3 separate regions of the Homo sapiens genome follow, and all the other regions are linked to region 1. The links come from fine-mapping of genetic effects on gene expression. Tissue or cell type: monocytes after Pam3CSK4. Region 1 holds a variant in brackets; each other region holds the start of a gene. All regions are shown on one strand. Distances are between the middles of the regions.

Region 1 (7,948 bases):
AGTGAACTATCAGGATGTTAACACATGGACTAGGGCAGGGCTGTGGGGTTGAAGAGAAGGTCATGGAAGAGGAGTGGGTAAGATTTGGTGACTGACTGATTAAGGGCTAAGGGAAAGTAACAAGTACGGGTGATGCCTGGGATTCTGTCCTCGGTGTCCAGGGTGGGGTGCGGGCAGCCCTAAAATGAGTAACACAGACAGGAGGTTTGCGGGTTGGATGTGGAATTCGTTTTGGATGTCCTAACCAAAACCAGCTCCTGTCCCCAAACAGGAATCAGAGGAACCAAAACAAGCTCCTGTCCCCAAACAAGAAGCAGAGGAAAAACCACACTAGCAAGCTGCAAGAGTTGGCACTGCTGCTGCCCATAGCCCTGAAGACGGGGACCAAGAAGCTCACAAAGGTACAGGGACTAGAGGAGAGGGGCCAGATTTGGGACGCAGGTCTTTAAATAGCAGCAAATGGGTCACCCTCTCCTGGGAAACCTGGACAGATCCTTTCAGTGGCAGCATTCAAATGGGAATGGTGCTACTCTGAACGGGAATTTCCGGGAGTCTGTGATCCCATAACTAGGTGCCTGGAGGATCCTTTTTTGCAAAGGAGAGAGGAGAAACCGGGCTGGGGAAATAGAGATAGCACAAAGATCATTGTTCCAGGAATCAAATAGCCATGGGTTTGAGCCCTCTAGCTTCACAGCTACAGAACTCTGGGCAGTTTCTCAGGCTACCCAGACTTTCTTTTTTTCTTTGTTCTTTTTTGTTTTTGAGAGTCCTGAGTAGCTGGGACTACAGGCACAGGCCACCACACCCGGCTAATAGTTTTTTTGTATTTTTAGTAGAGACAGGGTTTCACCATATTGGTCAGGCCGGTCTCAAATTCCTGACCTCAGGCGATCCATCCGCCTTGGCCTCCGAAAGTGCTGGGATTACAGGCGTTAGCCACTGTGGCCAGCCAAATTTATTCTCTTATGGTTCTGGAGTTCAGAAGTCCAATATCAGTCTCAGTGGCTTTTTCACTTGTTTGGTTGTTTTGGGGTTTTTAGGTTTTGTTTTGTTTTGTTTTGTTTTTGAGACAGGATCTCACTGTCTCACCCAGGCTACAGTGTAGTGGCTCGACCTCAGCTCACTGCAGCCTCTGCTTCCCAGGCTCAAGCAATCCTCCCACCTCAGCCTCCCGAGTAGCTGAGACTACAGGCTCATGCCACACCTGGCTAATTTTTTGTAGTTTTGGTAGAGACGAGGTTTTACCATGTTGCCCAGGCTAGTCTCAAACTCCTGACCTCAAGTGATCCTCCCACCTTGGCCTCCCAAAGTTCGGGGATTACAGGCATAAGCCACTGCACCCAGCCAGTCTCACTGGTTTAAAGTCAAGTTGTCAGCAGGGTTGGTTCCTCTTAGAAGCTCTAGAGAGTTTGTTTCCTTTCTTTTTGCCAACTTCTGGGGGCTGCCTGCATTCCTTGACCCATCATGGTCCCTCAAAGCCAGCATGGAAGCATCTTCAAATGTCTTTCCTGTCCTACCGCTTCTGTTGTCACATTGCCTTCCCTGCCTTTGACATTCCTACCTCTGTAAGATTATATGTGATTACACTGGGCCCACCCAGATAAACAGGAATAATCAGGCCATCTCAAGATCCTTAACACAGCGGGCTCAGTAGTTTGGGAGGCCGAGGTGGGTGGATCACCTGAGGTCAGGAGTTTGAGACCAGCCTGGCCAACATGGTGAAACCCCGTCTCTACTAAAAATACAACCAATTAGCCAGGAGTGGTGGCGCGTGCCTATAATCCCAGCTACTCAGGAGGCTGAGGCGGGAGATTTGCTTGAACCTGGGAGGCAGAGGTTGCAGTGATCCGAGATCGCGCCATTGCACCCCAGCCTAGGCAACAGAGCAAGACTCTGTCTCAAAAGAAAAAAAAAAAAAAAGATCCTTAACTCAATCATATCTGCAAAGTCCTTTCTTTCTGCCATACAAGGCAACATATTCATAGGTTCTGGGGACTAGGACATGGACATCTTTGGAACTTTGGGGGGATGCATTATACAGTCCACGATGGTGCTAAAAATATTTGAGGAATGTGAGTTTTTGGCATGCATAGGTGCTGGAATAGCCCTTGGGGAGCCAGAGATGACTATGACACAGTCCCTCCCCTCGAGGAATGGCAGTCTTGTCAGGGGACTGGCAACGTTTCATAAATGACCGGATGGCCACATCTCTTGGAATTCTCCCCAGGCCTCAGCCTACTTATTTACCATGTGTCCTCTGCTGTCTTCAGAACCCCTCTTCTCCCACCTCTTCATCCTTCCCTCAGCTGCATCATGGGGTCCTGCTCCACAGACAACCCGCATCCCGGGGCCGTGGGACATGCTCAGTCCAGTGCTCCGCGCCATAGCAGGAGCTGTGAGAATTGCCTCTCCTGTGTTAGAGACTTGGGGTGCAGCTTTGATTCAGAGTGTCCTTCCTCACCACTCTGGCTGGTGAATTGCCCCCTGCCCCGTCTGATCATGTAGGTTCTCCCTCTGACCATGAACACCCCCAGCGTATCACTGCAATTACTTCCTTGTTTCCGACCTCCTTCAGGTGGAGTTCTGCCAGAGCCATAAAGGAGACATCTCTGTCCGCCTTGCCCACAGGGCCTAGCAAGAGCAGAGAGCAGACAGCAGACAGCAGTAACAACCGTTCCCAACTTACTGAGCGTTCCAGGTGTCAGACCTTGAGTGCTAAGTGTCTTAGATACATTTTTCTCATTTAACTCTCCCACAAGGCTTGTGAGAGATGTATGGCTATGCTCATTCTTTGGTCTGAGGAAACTGAAGTGCAGAGAATGGTCACATCGCCCACAGGCACAGAGTTGAGATAGAAAGAGAGACAGAGAGAAAGAGAGAGGGAGGGATTCAGATGTGGCCAGGCACAGTGGCTCACACCTGTAATACCAGCACTTTGGGAGGCTGAAGCAGGCAGATTGCTTGAGATTAGGAGTTCGAGACCAGCCTGGGCAATGTGACGAAAGTCCATCTCTACAAAAAATACAAAAATTAGCCAGCCATGGTCCCCGCTACCCAGGAGGCTGAAGCAGGAGGATAGCTTGAGCCTGGGAAGTGGAGGTTGCAATGAGTCGAGATCATACCACTGCACTCCAGCCTGAGCAACAGAGTAAGACCCTGTCTTTTTTTTTTTTTTGAGACGGAGTCCCGCTCTGTACCCCAGGCTGGAGTGCAGTGGCACCATCTCGGCTCACTGCAAGCTCTGCCTCCTGGGTTCACGCCATTCTCCTGCCTCAGCCTCCTGAGTGGCTGGGACTACAGGTGCCCGCCACCACGCCCGGCCAATTAGTTTTTGTATTTTTAGTAAAGACAGGGTTTCACCGTGTTAGCCAGGATGACCTCGATCTCCTGACTTCGTGATCCACCCGCCTCGGGCTCTGAAAGTGCTGGGATTACAGGCGTGAGCCACCGCGCCTGGCCATGAGACCCCATCTTAAAAGAAATAGAGTCAGATGTATCTCACTCCAAAGGCTCTTGCCTTCAACCATTCTGTCACTCAAGGTTCAATAGATGTTTGTTGAATGACTGAATGAGCTCCCTTTGTTGGGACAGTTACAGGACCTGTTGATCTTACCTTCAGAAGGTCTTTGAGAGTCCAGACTCTGGTGTAGCCCCCAAGCTAACCTTCCTGAAGTTTCAATTACTGAGGCATCTGTCTTGAAATCTGGGATGATGCCCAATTGCTTTCTACATACAACCTTTATACTAGTAATAATAAGTAACATTTATATATTACTTCATGGTTTATAAGGACTTTTTCTTAGCGAGTGCCAACCATATGCTCCAAGCCTGGTATTAGAGATAATAAGCTTAAAAAGACTGAGGCTGGCTGGGTGCAGTGGCTCACACATGTAATCCCAGCACTTTGGGAGGCCGAGGTGGGTGGATCACTTGAGGTCGGTAGTTCGAGACCAACCTGGCCAACATGGTGAAACCTTGTCTCTACTAAAAATACAAAAATTAGCCAAGCGTGGTGGCACATTCCTGTAGCCCCTGCTACTCAGGAGGTTGAGGTGGGAGAATCGCTTGAACCTGGGAGTCAGAGGCTGCAGTGAGCTGAGATCGTACCACTGCACTTCAGACTGGGCAACAGACCGAGACTCCCTCTCAAAAAAAAAAAAAAGACTGAGGCCAGGTGTGGTGGCTCATGCCTGTAATCCCAGCACTTTGGGAGGCCAAGGCGGGTGGATCACTTGAGCCCAGGAGTTTGAGACCAGCCTGAACAACATGGCGAAACCTCATCTCGATAAAAAATACAAAAAATTAGCTGGGCATGGTGGCATGCGCCTGTAGTCCCAGCTACTTGTGGGGCTGAGACAGGAGGATTGCTCGAGCCTAGGAGGTGGAGGTTGAAGTGAGCTGAGATGGTACCACTAAACTCCAGCCTGGCCAACAGAGCAAGAGACCCTGTCT[C/CA]AAAAAAAAAAAAAAAAAAAAGGCCGAGCGCAGTGGCTCACGCCTGTAATCCCAGCATTTTGGGAGGCTGAGGTGGGCGGATCATGAAGTCAGGAGATTGAGACCATTCTGGCTAACATGGTGAAACCCCGTCTCTACTAAAAAATACAAAAAAATTAGCGAGGCGTGGTGGAGGGCGCCTGTAGTCCCAGCTACTCGCTGAGGCAGGAGAATGGCATGAACCCGGGAGGCGGAGCTTGCAGTGAGCCAAGATTGCGCCACTGCACTCCATCCTGGGCGACAGAACAAGATTCTGTCTCAAAAAAAAAAAAAAAAAAAAGCGCAAAAAAAAAAAACAAAAAAAGACTATTGGCCGGGCGTGGTGGCTCACACCTGGAATCCCAGAACTTTGGGAGACCAAGGCGGGCAGATCACAAGGTCAGGAGTTCGTGACCAGCCTAGCCAGCATGGTGAAACCCCGTCTCTACTAAAAATACAAAACATTAGCTGGGCCTGGTGGCACGCACCTCTAGTCCCAGCTACTCAGGAGGCTGAGGCAGGAGAATTGCTTGAACCTGGCAGGCAGAAGTTGCAGTGAGCTGAGATCGTGCCATTGCACTCCAGCCTGGGCAACATAGCAAGACTCTGTCTCAAAAAAAAAAAAAAAGAAAAAGAAAAAGAAAGAAAGACAGGGTTGAGCACAACAGCCAGGGCTCAAGACAACGTGGGGCTGCTGGGGACCAGAGACACAGAGGCTCCAGGAAGGACCCCATTCCCCACCCACCCCAACAATTCTTCAGTCGGCAGAGACCTTCTTGTTCTGCTATCTAGCCCTCACTGCAGACCAGTGAGACAGGGGCTACAGCTACAGGCTGGAGTGCAGTGGCATGATCTCAGCTCACTGCAACCTTTGCTTCAGGCTGTGTCTCTGGTCCCCAGCAGCCCCACATTGTCTTGAGCCCTGGCTGTTGTGCTCAACCCTGTCTTTCTTTCTTTCTTTTTCTTTTTCTTTTTTTTTTTTTTTTTGAGACAGAGTCTCGCTATGTTGCCCAGGCTGGAGTGCAACGGCGTGATCTTGGCTCACTGCAACCTCCGCCTCACGGGTTCAAGCAATTCTCCTGCCTCAGCCTCTCAAGTAGCTGGCATTACAGGCATGTGCCACCACACCCAGCTAATTTTTTGTATTTTTAGTAGAGACGGGGTTTCACCATGCTGGCCAGGCTGGTCTCGAACTCCTGACCTCATGATCCGCCCACCTCGGCTTCTCAAAGTGCTGTGATTACAGGCGTGAGCCTGGCCAACCCTGTCTTTCTTTTGAGGCAGAAGGAGATTCTGGTGCATGTCCTGCAGTACATTCAGTACCTCCAGAGAAACATCGATGCCGCCAAGGCCTTGTTCAAATGCCACATCACCACTGGGGAAGGTGGACTTGCGGGTAAGTAGTTCAGCCAGTGTTTCCTGGTGCCTGTGATGTTCCAAGTGTTGTTCCAGCCATCAGGGATACTGAGTGACCCTTCTGTCAAGGCCTGGTATAGGGGACAAAGAGAGATATGCAAGATGCCTCAGAGAAGAGGGGCCTTGGAGCTGGGCCTTCAGGACTGTAGGAGATGCAGGGAAGCCCAGCCAGGCAGAAGAAACAGGCCGGGCACAGTGGCTGATGCCTGTACTCCCGGCACTTTGGGAGGCCGAGGCGGGCGGATCGCTTGAGGTCAGGAGTTCGAGACCAGCCTGGCCAACATGGCAAAACCCCGTCTCTACTAAAAATACAAAAATTAGCTGGTGTGGTGGCTGGCGCCTGTAATCCCAGCTACTTGGGAGGTTGAGGCAGGAGAATCACTTGAACCTGGGAGGCGGAGGTTGCTGTGAGCCGAGATCACGCCACTGCACCCTAGCCTGGGCAACAGAGCAAGACTGTGTCTCAAATAATAATAATAATAATAATAATAATAATAATAATAATATATACATAAAATAAAATAAATCTGATCATGACCTTCCCCTGGCATAAAATCCCTCAGTAATTTTCATCTTCTTCACTTCCCTCCATAGCCAGGTGCTGGAAACCATTTGGGATCTCATCCCTGCCTTCCTAGTCCCTGCCAAACCTCCCCAGCCTCATCTCCTACCATTCTGCCAGCGTATTTTATTTATTTATTTGTGCTTTTTGTTTTGTTTTGTTTTTTGTTTTTTGTGTGTTTTTTGAGACGGAGTATCACTCTGTCACCCAGGCTGGAGTGCAGTGGCGTGATCTCTGCTCACTGCGACCTCTGCCTCCCGGGCCTCTGCCAGTATATTTTACACTACAGTAACAGCGACAGCACCCAGCACATCTAGCCTTAGGGGACTGCTATGTTCCAGGTGCTGTGGTATGTTTCTTTCTTTCTTTTTTTTTTTTTGAGGCAGAGTTTAGCTCTTGTTGCGCAGGCTGGAGTGCAGTGGCGTGATCTTGGCTCACCGCAACCTCTGCCTTCCAAGTTCAAGTGATTCTCCTGCCTCAGCCTCCCGAGTAGGTAGGATTACAGGCACTCACCACCACACCCAGCTAATTTTTTTGTATTTTTAGTAGAGACGGTGTTTCACCATATTGGCCAGGCTGGTCTCAAACTCCTGACCTCAGGTGATCCACCCACCTTGGCCTCCCAAAGTGCTGGGATTACAGCTGTGAGCCCCTGCTCCTAGCCGTTTTTTTTTTTTTTTTTTTTTGAGACAAGGTCTCACTCTGTCACCCAGGCTGGAATGCAGTGGCATGATCATGGCTCACTGTAACCTCAAAATCCCAGGACTCAAAACTCCAGGGGTCAAGCAATCCTCCTGCCGCAGACTTCTAAGCAGCTTGTACTACAGGCACGTGCCACCAATATCCAGATAATTTTCTTTTTTTTGAGATGGAGTTTCTCTCTGTCGCCCAGACTAGAGTGCAGTGGCGTGATCTCAGCTCACTGCAAGCTCTGCCTCCCAGGTTCAAGCCATTCTCCTGCCTCAGCCTCCCAAGTAGCTGGGACTACAGGCGCCCGCCACCACACCCAGCTAATTTTTATATTTTTAGTAGAGACAGGATTTTGCCGTGGTCGCCAAGCTGGTATCACCTCAAGTGATCCACCCATCTCAGCCTCCTAAAGTGCTGGGATGACAGATGTGAGCCATCGTGCCTGGCTCTGGCTAATATTTTTGTTTGTTTTTTTGTAGAGACAGAGTCTCACTGTGTTGCCCAAGCTGGTCTTAAACCCCTGGGCTTAAGCAATTCTCCCGCCTTGGCCTCCCAAAGTGCTGGGATTATAGGAGTGGGCCACCAAGCCTGACTTGTTTCTATGTATTAACTCACATTTAATCGTCAGGACAAATACCGAAGGGAAAAGCTAATGTGGTCCTGTTTTGCAGGTGATGGAACTGAAGCCCAGAGAGGTTAAGGTCACAGAGATGAGCCTGAGTCAGGGCCTGGCTCAGAGCCCACACACATCATCTCCATGCCACGCAGACCTCCAATCACACCCAATGACTTGCCTGTCCCCAGACACCC
Region 2 (4,000 bases), 44 kb after region 1:
TTGCGAAGGACGGGGCAACCACAGACGGGAAGGGGACCCAAATCACAGACAAGAGTAGCAAAAAAGATGGTAAGGATCCCCCTTGACCACAGTGCCTCCCCAAAGTTGGGTCACCTCTAATTCAGAGACACCCTTGTCCACATAATCAGGGTTCTGGGTCCACACAGTTCCTAAGCTCCGATTCCTTTTAGCCTCACCACTCCATCCTATAACCTCAGCAACTCCCTTGGGACCTAGTACCACACTATTCCAAGACCCCCAAACCTTGAGGTCACCCAAATTTCCAGGACTCTAAAGCCTAACATCCTAGCATTCTCTTCACTTTGTAGTCCCTAAACCGCCACAGTTCTGGGACCCGTCAAACCTCACGGTCTCCCACATTTTAGGCCCATTTATTACCTAGGGGCTCCGAAGGATCCCCATCATTTCTGGGATCACCATAAACGGCCAGGGTTCTCACCACATCGCTTTAGAGATGTCCTGAATCACACCTGCAGATTCCCCTGCCAGGGCCTCTCATTCCCTTGAGAGCTCCCATCAGCTTCCGGACGCTCATCTCCTCCAGGACCCTCATGACTTCCAGACCCCAATTTTCTCTAGAATCCCATTCAGCTTCTGGATCCCCTATCACCTTCAAGGCCCCCATCACTTCTAGACTTCTCCTCATTCCTGGGCTCAATCTCAAGACCCCTCTCCCACACCTCCAGGCTGCAATACTGGGTTCTCCATCACCTCTGGGCTTGCATCACCTCATGATTCCCCATTACCTGCAGAATGCCTGCCACCCCAGAACCCGGGGGATCCCACCTCATCTCAGATACCCCATCATGTCCAATAGTCACCATCCCAGAACTCCTACGCATAACGGGGGTAAAGGGGATTTCCCCCATCACCTCCAAGATGCCTGCCCAGCACCCCGCGGGCCTCTCATCACATTTCAGAATCCTGTACTCCCTCCAATGCTGTCGCCCTACAACGTCCATCACATTTAGAATGCCTATCTCAGGGCCCCATATCAATTCGGGGACCCTCCTATCAGTTCTCTGGAACCTCCATCCTTTCAGCACCCAGGGCCCCACGATGCAGGCCGCTCACCCGTTGGCTCCCACGACGACAGCAGCCTGGGTAGAAATAGAGCTCACGGCCCAAGTTGAAGCAGACGCGGTCTCCCCCCGAGCCCAGCCCCGCGGGCGTGGCGGGCGGCTCCCCGGCCCCGGCGCTGTCCGGCTCCCCGAGGCGCACGAGGCTGAGGCGCACGGCGGGCAGGGCGGGCCCGGGTCCGGGGCCTGCGGGCGGCGGGGACGACGCGGGGCCTGCAGCGCCGGGACCGGAGGCGGAGGCAGGGCCGGGCGGGGGCTGCGGTGGCTGAGGCGGCACCGGAGTCTGGGCGGAAGCCGGACCCGACCTGCGAGCGGCGCCGTCGCCCGGGAGTAGCTTGTAGAAACCCTCGCGCGTGCGGAATTGCGACTTAATCTCCGCGCAGTCCCCCATGGCGGCGCCGGGGCCCGAGCCGCCCTCCGCGCCGCCCGCCGCCATCTTGGGCGCCCCCCGGGCCCCGCCACTGCCGGACTGCCGCCCGCAGCCGGGCCCCCTCCCGGAAGCCGCTGGCCCGCGCCGGAAAAGGTGGGGTCGTCGCCCGGGCAACGCCTCTTCGATTGGCACCCAGATCCGGAGGCGGGACGAATCCCCGCGGTCGCTCGGGTAACGGTGCTGGGACTGTGGGCGGGGCGAGAAGGTGGGCGCGGCCTTTGAGCCTGTGACCGACTTGTGGTTGGCTGCGGGGGCGGAGCCCGCAATGGAAAGAGGCGTGGCCAGTTAGAAAGCTCAAGTCCTTAGCAACCGCGCCCTGGGAACGTTTGCCTAGCAACGGAGGGATTTTTTTTTTTTTTTCCCCCACGACAAAGAAGCCCTCATCCATAGTCCAGCCTTCCCATGAAGTCACAGCCAACCCCAAGTGACCCTGGTCTCTCCTTAGACGCCCAATATACACTCCCCTGACCTCCAGTGTTTCCCACTGACATATTCAAATCCCTGAATGACCACAGCATCTGCTACCATTCTTCCCCACCCTTGGTGACCCACCAAATCCCTGTGTCCCCACACAACTCAGAGGACTTCCTCTGACCCACTATTGATTAATGCTAACTCCAAACATCCTTCATATTTTCCACCAACCTCCAATGTATATTTCCATGATTTTCTTATTTTCAACAACCTCACTTGTCCTCCAAAACCTACCTCTGATTCCCAAATTGTATTGATCCCCACGGTGCCCCAGTGTCCCAGTGATCCACTCGTAACCCAAAGTCTCCCCCTGATCCCAACAGCTCCTACTCATAGCCAGTGCTCCCCATGTCTGCTGAAGCCACCCAGCCCCATCATAGATCTTTCTAGTCTCATGTAGTCAATGGCCTCTACGATTTCTCCCTAGAGTGTCCCAAGGGCATCTCACACTTAAAAAAAAAAATCCTACAATGGTTCGGGCATGGTGGCTCATGCCTGGAATCCGAGAATCCCAGCACTTTGGGAGGCTGAGGTGGGAGGATCGTTTGAGCCCAGGAGATCAAGACTGCTATGAATTCACATCACTGCACTAAAGCCTGGGGGACAGAGTCAGACTCAGTCTCTCTAAAAAAAAAAAAAAAAGAAAGAAAAAAGAATCCTACAATGAAATTGACGTCTTACACCAAATCCTCCACCTCTCTTGCATCCCCACCTTAGGGCTAGCTCTGCCGTCCACTCAGTCAACCAGGCCACAGACCTGGGTGTCTTCCTAGATGTGTACCATTTATCTTCACTCTGCCCCCGCTTACAGCCTCCAAGTCTTTTGCATTCGACCACGTGGAATTCCTCTTTCTCAGTTCCTTGTTCTCCCTGATCCAAGCTTCTCCTCTACCCAAGCCCTTCCCCCACCCCCACATCAACCGTGTCTCTTGGTCTCCCAGATTTCTGTCTCACCCCCACTTCCACCTTTCACTTGGCATGTAGAGAGGTTTTATTTTGTTTTTGTTTTTGTTTTTTTTGAGACAGTCTCACCCTGTCACCCAGGCTGGAGTGCAATGGCTCCATCTCGGCTCAGAGACGGGGTTTCACCATGTTGGCCAGTCTGGTCTCGAACTCCTGACCTCAGGTGATCCACCCACCTCGGCCTCCCAAAGTGCTGGGAGTACAGGCATGAGCCACTGCACCCGGCTTTTTTTTTTTTTTTTTTTTTTTTTGAGACAGAGTCTCGCTCTTGTCACGTGGGCTGGAGTGCAATGGGACGATTTTGGCTCACTGCAACCTCTGCCTCCTGGGTTCAAGTGATTCTCCTGCCTTAGCCTCCTGAGTGGCTGGGATTACAGGCACCTGCCACCACACCCAGCTACTTTTTTGTAGTTTTAGTAGAGACGGGGTTTCACCATGTTGGGCATGCTGGTCTCAAACTCCTGACCTCAGGTGATCCGCCAACCTTGGCCTCCCTAAGTGCTGGGATTACATGTGTGACCCACTGCACTAGGCCTAGAGAGGTCTTTCTAAAGCATGAATATGATCAGGGCCCTCCCCTGCTCAAAACCCATCTGTAGCTCCCTAGTGCTCTCAGGGGAAAGTTAAGCCCCAAGTGATCTGGCCCCTGCCAACCTCTTTTCAATCTCATATCTCACCACTAACTCCTCACACTATCCACCACCTAAAATGAGGCTTGAAAAACTACCCCAACATATCACACTCTCTCTTGTCCTTGGGTCTTTGCACATTCTGTTCCCTATTCTTGGAATGCCTTTCCCCATTCTTTTCTTGACCCTTTAAGAGTTGGCTCGGGAGCTCTGTCAGTCCTCTGGGCTTCCCCATTTGGGCTGTCACTGTCTGGAAATGAGTCTCTCTCCCTATAGTGTTGTGAGGTCCAGGAAGGCAGGACTGCAGCTGTCTGTGTCCCCAGCACAGGGGTGGGCTGACAGGAGGTATTTCAATAATGGTTTGATGGCTAGGTAAATGAATAAATAAAACAGGTGGGGCTGGT
Region 3 (4,000 bases), 33 kb after region 1:
TTTGCGGGACAGGGCATTGGCCCAGAGGGCTCCAAGGGTGTGCAGGATGGTTAGGGTGGGGTAACGGAGTCTGCAGAAGGACAGACCCTAAAGAACAAGGGGAGAAGGAAATAAGACCCAGTTCTTCCACCTTCCACCCTGACTCCAGGTGACAGTTCAGGTGCAGCCAGGGCCCCACCCCCACGTTCTCATGTAGAATGTCCTGGGTAACGGCCCAGACGTGGGGTTGTATCCAGTACCTCTAGATTCAGATGCAGGTGGTTCTTGAACCACACTTTGGAAAACCCTGGATTTGGGGCTGGGGGAAGGAACAGGACAGGGAGACAAAGGTAGCATGGTCACATATCCCAGACTCAAGTGCTCCGGTCCAGCCCATCTCTCAGTCCTCCAGGAGGAGTGCTTTAGTCCTACCCCTTATTTACAGATGACAATCAGGCCTCTCAGAAGTCAAGGTCCTATGACTAGGAATGTTAAACTGGGCAGCCTGGGTGGGGGACCAGCTGGGGTGGAGGCTTGTGGCTCAGGGACTGTGGGGACAGGGAGGCCTGGACTCCCGGGGGTGGAAGAAGTGGAGGCAGGATGGAGAGAGGGATGGGTATGGGAGGGGAGGGAAGGAGAGGAGACAGTGGGTTCTGGAGGAAAGAGAGGGGTTCCGGGGGGTTCCGGGAGAGTGGGCCAGCAGGGACGAACCAGCCAGGGCTGAGGACGGGGGAGGGAGGAGAGAGCCAAGACATTGAGCCCTTTTAAGGCAGCAGGAACCCTGGCCCCCTCCCCCGCCCCAGGCCTGGCAGGGGAGGGGCCGCGAGATGCAGCTCGGGCCACAAAAGGAGTGCTCCTCCCGGGAGCGCCAGACCCCTACCCCACCCGGTCTCAGTTTACCCTGCCAACCCAACTTCATCCTCTACTAAAGGGAGGCCAGGAGAGTCATTAGGGGCTGTGGGAGGTTGGGAGAAGGTTTTTCCAGAGGCTGAATGGCCTGGCCCTTCTTGGCCTCCACCTTCCCATCTGTGAAATGGGAGGAGGAGGGAAAGGAACCAGGCCTGGGTCAGAAAGAGATGGACACAAGAGGAAGCAGGGGAAGGCGGAGAAACAGGAAACAAGTGTCACACACAGTTTGTTACACACAGGCCAAAAACCAAACACCAGTCACTGAGGGCCAGACATATGAGGGCCAGAGGGGCAGGGTGCTGGGAATGAAAGAAACCAGTGACCAGTGAGCCCGAGTCCTGGGCTTGGGGAGGAGGTGGGCAGACAAGGCAGCTGGCAGAAGCGGAAGCATCCTCCTTCCAGCCCTGGCCCCAGGCCCTGGAAAGCCCTTGCAAGAAGGGGTTTTGTGGGACAGCTGGAAGGTTGGAGGCCCTGGGCCAGGAGAACTAAAGGACGCAGGGACCCGGGGTGGCGGGAATGGTGGCTGACCCACACGGCTCATAGGAACCGAGACTTTGGGGCTGGGGGTGGGGGTGGGTGCAGAACCTACAAAAGAAGGAGACACACCCAGAAGAACCCAAAGTTGTCCCTCCTGGATCGCAGAGGAGGGGGCACTGGTGGCGCCTGTCTGCAAAGCTGGTTCTCCCACAGGGCCCGCGTGAGTCACCGCCCTCCCAGTGCCTGGGCACCTGTTGGGGCAGCTGGAGAGGCTGGCGCCGAACACCTGCCTGTCGGCTGCGCCCCTGGCAGCTGCCCCATGCTGGCCCTCCTGGCTTGCCCCAGGCCACAGGAAACCAGGGGAGAGGGCCATAGAGCCCACTTTTGGGGGGAGGGTCCTAGGAGAGGGAGCTCCCAGCATGACCCTGACCCTGACCCTGAGGCGGGGTGCAGAGAGGCCATGGGAGGCTGTTGGCAGCCTAGCCTGCTGTGACTCCTAAGCCATGGCTCTGAGTCACAGCCACCCTAGCCTCTGCTGACCTTACTCTGCCCCTCCAGAGTGGTGGCATAGGACAGAGAAATGTTGCCCCAGGGCCCAGGTCCACACTCTGAGCCCCAGGATGGGAGGATCTCCCCATGCCCATCCTGCCATCCTGCCCCCCCAACAGCCAGGCCTCTGTGCCCAGACCTGTCTCCTGCCCCACCCCCACCCCATCTGCAGGAGCCCCGAGGGTAGGCACTCACCCCACTGCAAGAAGTCGGCCACGTACTTGTCCTGGGCCAGTTCGGAGGCGCCCAGCTCCTGGTGGACGCCCAGGAGAAGGTCGAGCAGGGGCTCCAGCCCCAGGAAGCCCGGGTCCAACACCAGCTGCTGGAGCCGCCTCAGCCGCACCTCGGCTGACATGTTGGACAGGCAGCACCATGGCCCCTCCCCGGGCCGGGGGCTCGGGGTCCTCCTGTCACAGGGCCTGGCAGCCCCTGTCCAGGCCCTGGAGCCCTGGCTGCATGTCTGCCTGTCCCTGGCTGTCCCCTGGGCCTCTCTGGCCACTTCTCTCTGCGGCCGGCCGAGGCCTCCTCCCCTTCTCCCCACCCCTTGGTCCAGCCCCCCTCCCGCCTCCCAGCCTTAACCCCTCACAAGCCAGCCCCCCAAGCTCCCTCCTTCCAGGGCCCTTCAGAACCCTTCAGTGCTAGAGTAGGGGGAATGCATGGAGAATCTCAGCTGTCACACTGTCACCCCAATAAAAAGGTAGAGCACAGAGGAAGCCACAGGTGTGATGAATTTCAAGAAGAACCTGCCCATTGCTGAAACAGGGCCAATTGAGGCTGAGTGACCCAGTAGCAACCACCCCCTTGCTCCCGACAAGCTCCAGAACTGGGGGCTAGGGGGTGAGGGCTGGGGGTTGGGGCTGGGTGGGAGAAAGGGGTTGAGGCCTGGGAAGGGGACGGGAGGCCAGGGCAGCTTCTTGGGTGACTCAGAGATGGATTCCGACTCGGACAGTTAAATTTAGCCCTCAGGCTCTCTGCTTTATACCAGCTTTTTTTTTTTTTTTTTTTTTTTTTCCCAGGAGGTGGGGAAGGGGTGGTGAGGACAGGACCAGGAGGGGGCACCCTCAGAGCCTGAACAGGGGTGACCTGCTGCCCAAAGGCTGGGGGAGGAAAGTGGTGGAGCCAAGCCCTCCCTGGGCAAACGAGACCCCAAAATAGCTCCTTGGCCCCTGGCCGGGGAGCCACATTCCTGCCCAGGCTGGGATTAGAAACAGAAACATTTCGGGGGGTGGAGGGTGGCGCGGGAAGACACACTCCCTGCGGCTCCGAGAGCCAAGAGGAATCTGAGCTCTTCTTTCCAGGGTGGACGGTTCTCCAGAGTGGAAGTCGGGGCCTCCAACCGGCCTGGGGTGCCTGGGCCTTGAGAGGGCCAGGCCTGAGAAACTAGGAGGCAAGGACCGAGGAGTCCCAGCTGGGCAGGGCCTGGGAAACGTGGTCCTGGGCAGTTCTGATAATTTAAAAAACACCGAGGACTTTGATGAGGGGCCCTGGCTGCGGGCAGGATGCTCTTCTCCCCAAGAGGGTCCTGCTCCAGCCGCTGGTGTGGGTCACCAGTTGTGTGACTCGCAGGTCCGTTCCCTCCCTGGGCTCCGGCTTTTCCTGCTATGAAAAGGGGTGGGAGGCGCTGGGCTGGGAGCAGGCCTGCACTCCTCCTCTGGGGAAAGCGGACTGCCTAGAACCACAGAGTACACACACAGGTCCTCTACATCATCTCCTCCGAAGGGGACAGACCCGCTGAGAAAACAGGGAACTTTAGTATAAATAAGAGGTCCTGCGGGACAGGGAGGAACCTGAGGGGCTTCCATAATTTAACACTCTTCAAAAGCACAGACAATAGCAAGGGCAGCTGGGGTGGGGGCCGGGCGAGGGCTGGACCACCCCCGGCCCTGCCCACTCAACTGAGGGGCACACTGCAGACCTGGGGCTCTTGTGGCAGGGGCGGGGAGTCTCTCCCCAGGAGTGACCAGTCACATGCTGGGGACAGGGATGAGGGTAACACTGATGTTTCAGAGGAAGAGGTCATTGTACTTGGCAGTGGGTGGGGGACAAGGCTGAGGCCACAAGGGCTATTACATCGCCCGTGTCCGGG

Which allele goes with the higher level. Alleles are on the strand shown, and positions count from the first base shown. SD is a standard deviation of normalised expression in the study named.
With allele C in place of CA in region 1, the expression in monocytes after Pam3CSK4 of the gene that starts at base 1,625 in region 2 is lower (moderate effect, 0.56 SD a copy in Quach 2016).
In carriers of allele C in region 1, the expression in monocytes after Pam3CSK4 of the gene that starts at base 2,407 in region 3 tends to be lower than with CA alone (moderate effect, 0.67 SD a copy in Quach 2016).

What was found. PIP is the estimated chance that this variant, and not a neighbour inherited with it, causes the effect.
Region 2: DMWD starts here. The variant in region 1 is fine-mapped to the expression of DMWD in monocytes after Pam3CSK4 (Quach 2016, PIP 0.95).
Region 3: DMPK starts here. The variant in region 1 is fine-mapped to the expression of DMPK in monocytes after Pam3CSK4 (Quach 2016, PIP 0.95).

Annotation. Positions count from the first base shown.
Region 1 is chr19:45,744,921-45,752,868 of GRCh38, forward strand. It overlaps MEIOSIN (meiosis initiator), which reads left to right. Exons shown (of 15, transcript NM_001310124.2): 4 at 272-401; 5 at 5,755-5,866. Among named protein-coding and RNA genes, the nearest start is that of MEIOSIN, 15 kb to the left of the region's middle. RefSeq lists an enhancer at 2,657-3,449. The variant C/CA (reference allele first, on the strand shown) is at 4,453.
Region 2 is chr19:45,791,221-45,795,220 of GRCh38, forward strand. It overlaps DMWD (DM1 locus, WD repeat containing), which reads right to left and starts at 1,625. Exons shown (of 5, transcript NM_004943.2): 1 at 1,096-1,625. The coding sequence starts at 1,536. RefSeq lists enhancers at 1-55, 76-125 and a silencer at 1,274-1,753.
Region 3 is chr19:45,780,084-45,784,083 of GRCh38, forward strand. DMPK (DM1 protein kinase) reads right to left here and starts at 2,407. Exons shown (of 15, transcript NM_004409.5): 1 at 2,110-2,407. The coding sequence starts at 2,269. It overlaps DMWD (DM1 locus, WD repeat containing), which reads right to left. Exons shown (of 5, transcript NM_004943.2): 5 at 2,864-4,000.